3 separate regions of the Homo sapiens genome follow, and regions 1 and 3 are each linked to region 2. The links come from fine-mapping of genetic effects on gene expression. A gene starts in region 2. Each other region holds a variant in brackets. All regions are shown on one strand. Distances are between the middles of the regions. Region 1 overlaps MPV17 (mitochondrial inner membrane protein MPV17). Region 2 holds the start of SLC30A3 (solute carrier family 30 member 3). Region 3 overlaps SLC5A6 (solute carrier family 5 member 6).

The links. PIP is the estimated chance that this variant, and not a neighbour inherited with it, causes the effect. A credible set is the group of variants that fine-mapping cannot tell apart.
Region 1: its variant is the best candidate, but not a certain one, in a credible set for the expression of SLC30A3 in atrial appendage (GTEx, PIP 0.71).
Region 3: its variant is the best candidate, but not a certain one, in a credible set for the expression of SLC30A3 in lung (TOPMed, PIP 0.80).

What each region holds. Positions count from the first base shown.
Region 1 is chr2:27,314,820-27,317,571 of GRCh38, reverse strand. All of the region lies in intron 2 of MPV17 (mitochondrial inner membrane protein MPV17), which reads left to right. Among named protein-coding and RNA genes, the nearest start is that of MPV17, 6.9 kb to the left of the region's middle. The variant C/T (reference allele first, on the strand shown) is at 1,238.
Region 2 is chr2:27,261,946-27,264,697 of GRCh38, reverse strand. It overlaps SLC30A3 (solute carrier family 30 member 3), which reads left to right and starts at 1,651. Exons shown (of 8, transcript NM_003459.5): 1 at 1,651-1,886. The coding sequence starts at 1,792. RefSeq lists silencers at 53-142, 1,617-1,686, 1,707-1,886, 1,937-2,096.
Region 3 is chr2:27,202,496-27,205,247 of GRCh38, reverse strand. It overlaps SLC5A6 (solute carrier family 5 member 6), which reads left to right. Exons shown (of 17, transcript NM_021095.4): 8 at 317-457; 9 at 658-787; 10 at 1,381-1,469; 11 at 1,903-2,015; 12 at 2,368-2,435. Among named protein-coding and RNA genes, the nearest start is that of ATRAID, 8.2 kb to the left of the region's middle. The variant G/A (reference allele first, on the strand shown) is at 1,263.

The DNA.
Region 1 (2,752 bases), 53 kb before region 2:
GGAGTGGGAGTGTCATGCACTGAGGTCTCAGATAGTCAGTGGCTGAGCTGGCGTTATAACCTAGGGCACTGCCCACCATACTGCCTTGCACTTGAGACTACTGGAGCCTCCAGATGCTGAGTGCAACCCCAGCTGATCTGAGCTTAGATACGTAACAAGCTGCAAAACTACCCGTTTTGTCTCATTTTCTAGCAGTAGGATGGGTTCAGGTCAGAAATGGGAGAGCATTCAGAATAATCCCAGAGGATCCACTCCCCTCCCGCTGCTGGGCTTCCACTCCCTCTGGGCTCTGTGCCAGACTGAGCCCCTATCCTAGGCAGCTAACTAATGTTTGCAGACTTCTGGGGAGGAAGGCAGCACTGCTGGCCCCATGCCAGTAGCTATACCTGCCGACCCAGGCCTCCTGGACTGAAGGACACGCTTCCTGCTCCTCACTCCAAGAAGCCACTTCTTGCCCCTCTGCCTTCTGCGCATGAAACTCAAAAGCCACAAAAGTAAGTAGAGGAACAAAATAGGAGAAGTAGGGAATTTACCCTGCCCATGCCCGGGAAGAGGGTGTGGAAGTTGGGGCTTTTCCACTAGTGGGCAGGAAGTGGTCCCAAATTGATCTGCTCAGAGGCAGGCTCCCTTCCCCCTGGCCGCTGGATCTGTTCGGGAGTGACGGCATGAGAACTGGCACCTACCCAGGGGCATGATGTCACACCTGCGCCAGCATCTGCTCGCTGGGCTCCACGCCCAGCCTGTCATTGGGCATCACTGCCCAGCAGCCCCTAGCCCTGCCCCATCAGGCCTCTGGCCATTATGTGTCTGCAGGCCTCCAGTCCCAACTCCCTAGAAACAAGTCCAAGGGGAGGGGGCCCAGAGCACTGGAGAGTCCAGACCAACCAAATATATCCAGGAGATCTCCCAGAGGCTGGGGTGGTTTGGGTCTATTTGGGCTCTGGGTTGGGAAATGTGGGATGAGGAATCTGAATGTCTGGGTCCTTCCTGCCCAAAGGGTCACTTGGGCTGGAAAAGCAGGCTTGCTCTATGCTTGCTCCAAAGCCTTATACCACCTTGGAGTTGCTGCAGGCACAGGGGGCCTGATCATCTGTGGGCAAAGGAATCCCTGGGCACCACTCTTCTGAAATGAACCGTCAGGGACTGCAGATCTACATACCACCTACTCACCCCTACTGCTGCCCTGTCACTTGGTAGTCCCTCAGGCTTGATGGGCACAGTCTGGGGGACTTGAATC[C/T]ATCTTTCTCCAAGGCTGCAGGCTTCCAGAACTATGGGGCTAGAAGTCAGGGACTTGGCTTTTCATTCCAGCTCTGCCTCTAGCTTGTTGTGTGACTGTTGGCAAGTCATGAAGAGTGAAAACACACACTTCTCTGTTTCTTTCCCAGGAATATTGCTGTCTGCCATCCCCACGAGGTGACAAGGAGCAGAATGATGGAATTTGGGGGAGTAAAGACAGAGAGGAAGTGCATTAGTCTAGGGAATGTCCTTTGATATGCAGGCCCTTTGGGGCCTCACTTGGGCAGGAACACCCAGCAGGGGAGCAGCCACAGGGGCCTCCTGGTGCCACTGACCTCTGAGCCCATCTCAGCCCATGCCAGGAATACCCTGGCCTCCTTGGTCCTCCTTGAGAGAAGGCCTGGGTTCAGTTCCAACTGCACTCCTTACCAAGTCATCTCATCTCTCAAAGACTCATCATTAAATGGGGGTGTAGGCTGGGTGCCGTGGCTCACACCTATAATCCCAACACTTTGGGCGGCCAAGGCAGGTGGATCACCTGGGGTCAGGAGTTTGAGACCAGCCTGGCTAACATGGTGAAACCCCATCTCTACTAAAAATACAAAAATCAGCCAGGTGTGGTGGTGGGCACCTGCAATCCCAGCTACTCAGGAGGCTGAGGCAGGAGAATCGCTTGAACCCGGAAGGCAGAGGTTGCAGTGAGCGGAGATCGCACCACTGCACTCCAGCCTGGGCGACAGAATGAGACTCCATCTCAAAAATAAATGAGTGAATGAATGAATGGATGAATGGAGGTGTGACCACCTACCTCCCAGATCTTTTGTGAGGATTAAATGTATAAGAGTCTTTTGTAAACACCTTACCAAAGTAGACCGTTACACTGTTGGTCCCTTCATTTGAGAAAGGACTGCCTTTTCTGCCTCACCATCCCCTGGCCTTCTTGGCAGCACTCTTCCCTTTCTGCAGGGCTGCAGCAGCTCCCTCTCATCCCTGGCTGGAGGGATAGGGAACCGGGTGCGGGTGGGAGCAAACCTGCAGTTCCCCCGACGTCCTCACACCTTCTACCCGACTTGGACCTTTGGGCAACTTAAGAATTCTTCAGACCCTTTCTCAGAGTCGTCCTGCTGTTTGGGACAGTACATTTGACGTTTTCCCTTTATTTTCTGAGCACCTACCAGTAGCTTGCTTAGCTGCATGGTGAGGGGATGGGATAACAAAGGTATCTAGGATTCTATCCTTGGCCCTGGGAGGTCATGCCTCGCAGTGTTCTGGGAAGACCCCCACCACTTTGGGAGTTTCAGGGAGAGACGAGGCAGGACTGGGGGTGCCCAGAGCTGCTCCATGGCCAGTAGCCGAGGTGAGCCACGGGTTTCCATCCCCAACCCCAGCTCTCAGCCATACCCAGCTGCCACTGACTAGGCTGCTCAGGGGCAGGGCCGGCCGGGCAGAGGGTGTGGAGGAAGAACGCAACAGTGAGTGTGCAGCCAGCATGGACGTCAGAGCCAGTTCTGGGCCA
Region 2 (2,752 bases):
GCTCCCTTACCCCCTCACCCCTCATGGGCTTTGGACTGGGGAGGCTGGGGGCTGGCGCGGAGGAGAGGCTGGCGCAGCCGGGGGTGGGGACGGCGCGGAGGGCGCGCGCAGCCCCTGTGGCTCTCCCGTGCCGCTCTGCAGCAGCGGCGCAGGACAGTCCCTTCGCACGCGCCGCCCGCACACCTTGGCACGGGCCAAGCCACACTCTCCCCCGCCGGAACAGCCAGCCCGCCGCCCAGCTTTCCTAATCCGTTTAAGCCTCACCTCCTCCGCGAAGCTCTCCCGGGTTAACCCCATCACTTCCAACCACTGTATCTGGCACGTGCTCCCGTTTTTGTTTTGTTTTGTTTTGTTTTTTTGCAAGTGCACTCTTGGGCTCGTTGGAATAACAATATCGAGGGTAGGTGTCTGTCCCCAGAAGCCTAAGTTCAGGACGCCCAGTGTGTTCTGAAGGATGCGGCTGATGAGTTTCTTGCCTGGGCTCACTAACCATTCCCACCCTCCACGCTTCCCCATCCCTGCTCACTCGCTCCCCTCCTCCTACGGACCCTCCTCTTCACAGACTGTCACAGCTTCGAGTGCACAATCCTCTTCCCACCCCCTCCCATTCTACAGTGGCGGCAGGTGCGAGGGGAGAGAACATTGAGCATTTGAAGCTTCGACTTGAGGCTCGGCCACCGACTTTGCTGTAAGTCGCTCCCTCCCCTGGGTTTTAGTTTCCCCCAAATGAGGCAGAATGCGGTAATGTCCAGGAGGGCGCTGCAGGTGTGGAGGATGGGAATCACTAGCTGACACGCTGCCCCGCTGCCCCTCAGCCCCTCTCCATAAACAGTGGCCGTGACACCAGATAGGCGGCTCGACTTCACTGGACCCCCGCCCGTAAGAGAACTGTGAGCGCTCTCCAGTTGCCAGTGCGGCGTCCAGAGCCGGGGAGGGAAAGAGGATGGGGGTCCAGGCCGGGCCCTTTATTCACAGCCTGCATGACCTTGGACTCTTCTTCCTCTGGGTCTCAGTTTACTCATTTGAAAAGCAGGGATAACAGTGGGTTGAAGGAGAGCAGGAAGCTTGTCACCCAATGTTTCTGTATAAAAATAAATGATCATTCGCGGTACAGTGATTGGCAGCAGACTGGGCTCGTGAATTCCGACCCCAGATTCTCCGTAAAGGGGTTTCTGGAGTCCCTGGAATCTCCCTGTGTCACCGCTCACCTCATGTTCTTTCTGGTTCTCTGGAGATAGGTAATGGGTCCGCTCCTGTTTCTGCCTCCGCGTGAGGGTTGCGGCCACAGGGTGACGGCGTGGTGGGCGACACCCCCGCGCAGGCATGCACAGAGTGGTGGTCGTTGGGCGAAGGTTGGTCGTGAGGTTCTTGGGCTTCAGGAGCGAGGCTTGGAACCGGTGGGCGGGACTGTGTGCAGAGGTGGGGCTAGCTCGCCTGGGGGACGGGGCTGTGGAGATGAGGAGTTCTCCAGAACTCGGGTGGCGGGGCGCTCCCGGGCTCTGGCGCGGGGAAATGGGGCTTTGGCAGTGGGGGCGGGGCTTAAGGGTGGGGAGAGGCCGGGGAGCCTGGAGGCGGAGCTTGGGGAGCTCGCCCCACGCGGGGCGGGGCTCCGGCGGCAGCGGGATCTGCAGTTCGGACTCCGCGCGCCACAGTCGCTGCAGTTCGCTCCACTCTGGTGGCCCCGCCGCCCTGCGGGGATCCCGGGGGTCGGCGGGCTGCTCGGACTTGGCGCGGGGCCGGCCCGGCCTCTCTCTTCCTCGGTGGGGCCTAGACGGTCGGGGCACCGGGAACATGGAGCCCTCTCCAGCCGCTGGGGGCTTGGAGACCACTCGCCTGGTGAGCCCCCGGGACCGCGGTGGCGCCGGAGGCAGCCTGCGTTTGAAGAGGTAGGACAGACCTGGGCTGGCCCTCGGCCCGGGGGCGCCACCCTACTACCCTCCGTCCATTTCGTTGTCTCTCTCGGCGCGGGCCCCGGCGGCCGCCCCAGCGCACCGCGGGTCCCTCGCTCCGCTGCACCCCGCTTCATCCCCTCTGGCCACACGGAGCGCCCAGCCCTACACAGCCGGCTACGCCTCCTCCCGGCCGCCTGACTTCCTCGGGTGAAGCGGCCTCTCACTCCCCTCCGGCCGGCGTCCCAGGCCGCCGGACCCCTCCGCCACCCCCGCGGCGCCTGCCTTCCCTGGGAGCAGCTGCCGCTCGGTCGGGCCGGAGCCCTCGCCCGGTGCGCCAAGGTCCGCATTGCCCCGGGCCCAGGGCGGGAGCGCCTCGCTGCCCAGGCTTCAGAGCTCCCTCTGTAGGCCCCGGGGGCTCCCCTCCGCGCGCCCCCTCCAGCCGCGGCCAGCTGTGGGCGCCGGGGCCCGAGGATGGGCCGGGCTCCGCGCGGGTCTTGCGGGCCCCTGGGGGGCGGGCGGCCGCCGGGAAGCGAGGGGGCGGCGAGGAAGGAGCAGGTGCGGTCTGGGCAGCGGGGGTATTCCCGGCTCCGCACAGACGGGGCCGGGGGCGGCGAGGTGTGAAATGAGGCGCGCGGAGCGGCCGGGACAGCGGGCCGGGGGTGGCAGGAGAACCGCCAACGCGCCCCGCCGGCCCCCGCGCCTGCCGCCACCGTCCACCTGCCCCTCTGAGCGGCCGTCCGACCTCCCTGCCCACCCCCGTGGGCCATCTTGTCTGTCGGCTGACCGTCCGTTTGTCTCCGGAATTTGGCAGGGTCTCCGGCTTTTTCTCTTCCCCCACCTCTCTCAATCTTTCTGTTTCT
Region 3 (2,752 bases), 59 kb after region 2:
CCTGAGGTGTAACAGCAGACAGTGGGAAACTGGTCCTGCAGAGATGGAGGGTGATTACAGGTGCCCGGCTAGTGTTTATAGAGAGTCAGGACATTACCTGGGATGAGTACCTGGAATGAGCCTGGGGTGGAAGAATGGAGCCTCCCTCTAACTGGCTGTGCTGTCTCTCGAGTGCACCCAGCTTCTTGCTTTCAGTGTCCCCCTTGGCCCTAGCAGTGGTGTCTCTCCTTTCCTGTCCACTGACTCCTGTTGCCAAGAGGGCAGGAAGGCTGTGTCTCTCAGGCTTTGCACAATGACTGGGTGGTGTCTGTTACAGGCTGGATCCAGACCCCTTTGTGCGGCACACCTTCTGGACCTTGGCCTTCGGGGGTGTCTTCATGATGCTCTCCTTATACGGGGTGAACCAGGCTCAGGTGCAGCGGTACCTCAGTTCCCGCACGGAGAAGGCTGCTGTGCTGTGAGTGCAGGGACAGGAAGGGAGTGGAGCAAGGTCTAGGGGAAGGGGTTCCCCAGAGATAATTGGGGTGGGGCAGGATGCCAGAGTGCATACACATCCACTGTGGTCAGGATGTGGGTCTCCTTTCTGGAGGTCAGGGGCACACACCTGAGGGTGTCTGTTAACGCCGGCTCTCCTCCTGGCACTGACCTCTTTTGCAGCTCCTGTTATGCAGTGTTCCCCTTCCAGCAGGTGTCCCTCTGCGTGGGCTGCCTCATTGGCCTGGTCATGTTCGCGTATTACCAGGAGTATCCCATGAGCATTCAGCAGGCTCAGGCAGCCCCAGACCAGGTGAGAAGGCGCTGTTCTGTTCCCATGAGGGCAGGCCTGGCCCCACAACAGGAGTGTCTAGGTAGGAAAGGACTGACTGCAGAAAGGACTCCCACCCTGGGTGGGAGACGGTTGTAAAATCCTTTCCCACTCTGAGATGCTAGGAATCTAGCATGTGAGGATCGCGGTCCCTAGCATCACCTAACCACAGTGCTCATCCTACTGGGGTGAGGACCTACCCTTACTGACTCCCCATTGGGCTCCATGTGCTCTGCTGGGAGCTATCACATACCTGGTCTCACCTAAGCCTCTAACAGCCTCATTTCACAGAGGAGAAAACAGACTCAATGAGGTAGCCAGTAAGCAGAAGTCACACTAGTAGCCAGAAACAGAGCTGCGGGCGAATTGTGTCATTCCCTCTGTAGAGCTCATTTTCTCTCCACTTAATGTGTAGACACTTGGGTCAGCAGAGGTGCCCCAGGCCCTGGCTTCCCTT[G/A]TAATGCACCCAGTCTCGGTAGACTCGCTGGGGCACATGTAAAGGGAGCTTCCCTGCAGAGCCGGCCCTGGGAAGACCCCTCTCTGAGGACTGCTGTGTACCTCCGCTCTGCTTGCAGTTCGTCCTGTACTTTGTGATGGATCTCCTGAAGGGCCTGCCAGGCCTGCCAGGGCTCTTCATTGCCTGCCTCTTCAGCGGCTCTCTCAGGTACCCACTTTAACGATTTCCCTCAGGCCTGGTGCACCTGACCCCTATTTGGTACAAGGTGATGGGTGGAGCGGGGTGATAGTGGGTGGGGAATCCCTCTAAGTTTCTCACTGTGCCTGCCCCATCTGTGTGCATGACAAGGGATAGCTCATCTTTGTAGGCCACAGCACAACAGAGATACCCCTGTTTTGGTTAAGAGTTCTTTTATGGTACCAGAAATTGATCTACTCGAATGAAACCCATATCCACATTCAAAAAAGGACTGTGTCCTTGCCTTCCAGGCCCGCTCTGAGGTGGCATCAAGTCCAACTATGAGGAGGTTTCTTGGTGGTACCTGTCATCTCCCCGCTTTAGGACACCATTTCCTCCATAGAGTCCCATAGAGCTGACAATTTTGCCTCGCTCAACTCCTCATCCTCTTCCTCTTTTTCAGCACTATATCCTCTGCTTTTAATTCATTGGCAACTGTTACGATGGAAGACCTGATTCGACCTTGGTTCCCTGAGTTCTCTGAAGCCCGGGCCATCATGCTTTCCAGAGGCCTTGGTGGGGTTATGCTTCCTCATCTCTTCAGTCTGGGTCTTTCTAAGCTTCATCCTGACCATTGTCATCAGTTTGCTGTAAAACACCCACTTTATCCGGGGCTCAGCACTTGCCTAATGAAGCACACAACCTTCCCTGCATGCATGGTTGTTTCCATCTCAGGGCATGTCCTAGGGAGGTCTCTGAGTCACATAGGAGTGAGGACTTGGTGGGAGGAAGCTGGGGCGTGATGTAATATGCCTTTTGTTTCCAGAGAGACAGAGGTGGTAGTTTGGCTGGGCAGGGAGCCTTGCTTTACCCCATTGCTTGTGTTAACTCACACCTTCTTGTTTCCTCTCCTGTCCTTTTCCCCCAGCCTTTGGCTATGGGCTGCTTTGTCTAGGAATGGCCTATATTTCCTCCCAGATGGGACCTGTGCTGCAGGTAATAACTATAGAGGGTAGGAAGCAATTTTAAGGGAGAGAAGGAATTGATTGAAACAGGAAGTTGAGAAGGGCAGCTATATTGAGGGGAATGACCGGGGGGCAGGCGTAAGAGATTCCCCTTTGATGGACCGTCTTTACTGTGAACAGACTTGCAAGCAGCCAGAGGACGCAGGGTCATTCCTGGGATGTTGTAGGCTGAGAGAGAGCTAAGGATCAGCCTCAGAGAACTCAAAACACATCCCTCTCCATCAGCCCCCTAGCAGCCTTTCCTGCCCTCTGGAGTTCTTTTTTTTTTTTTTTTTTTTTTGAGACAGA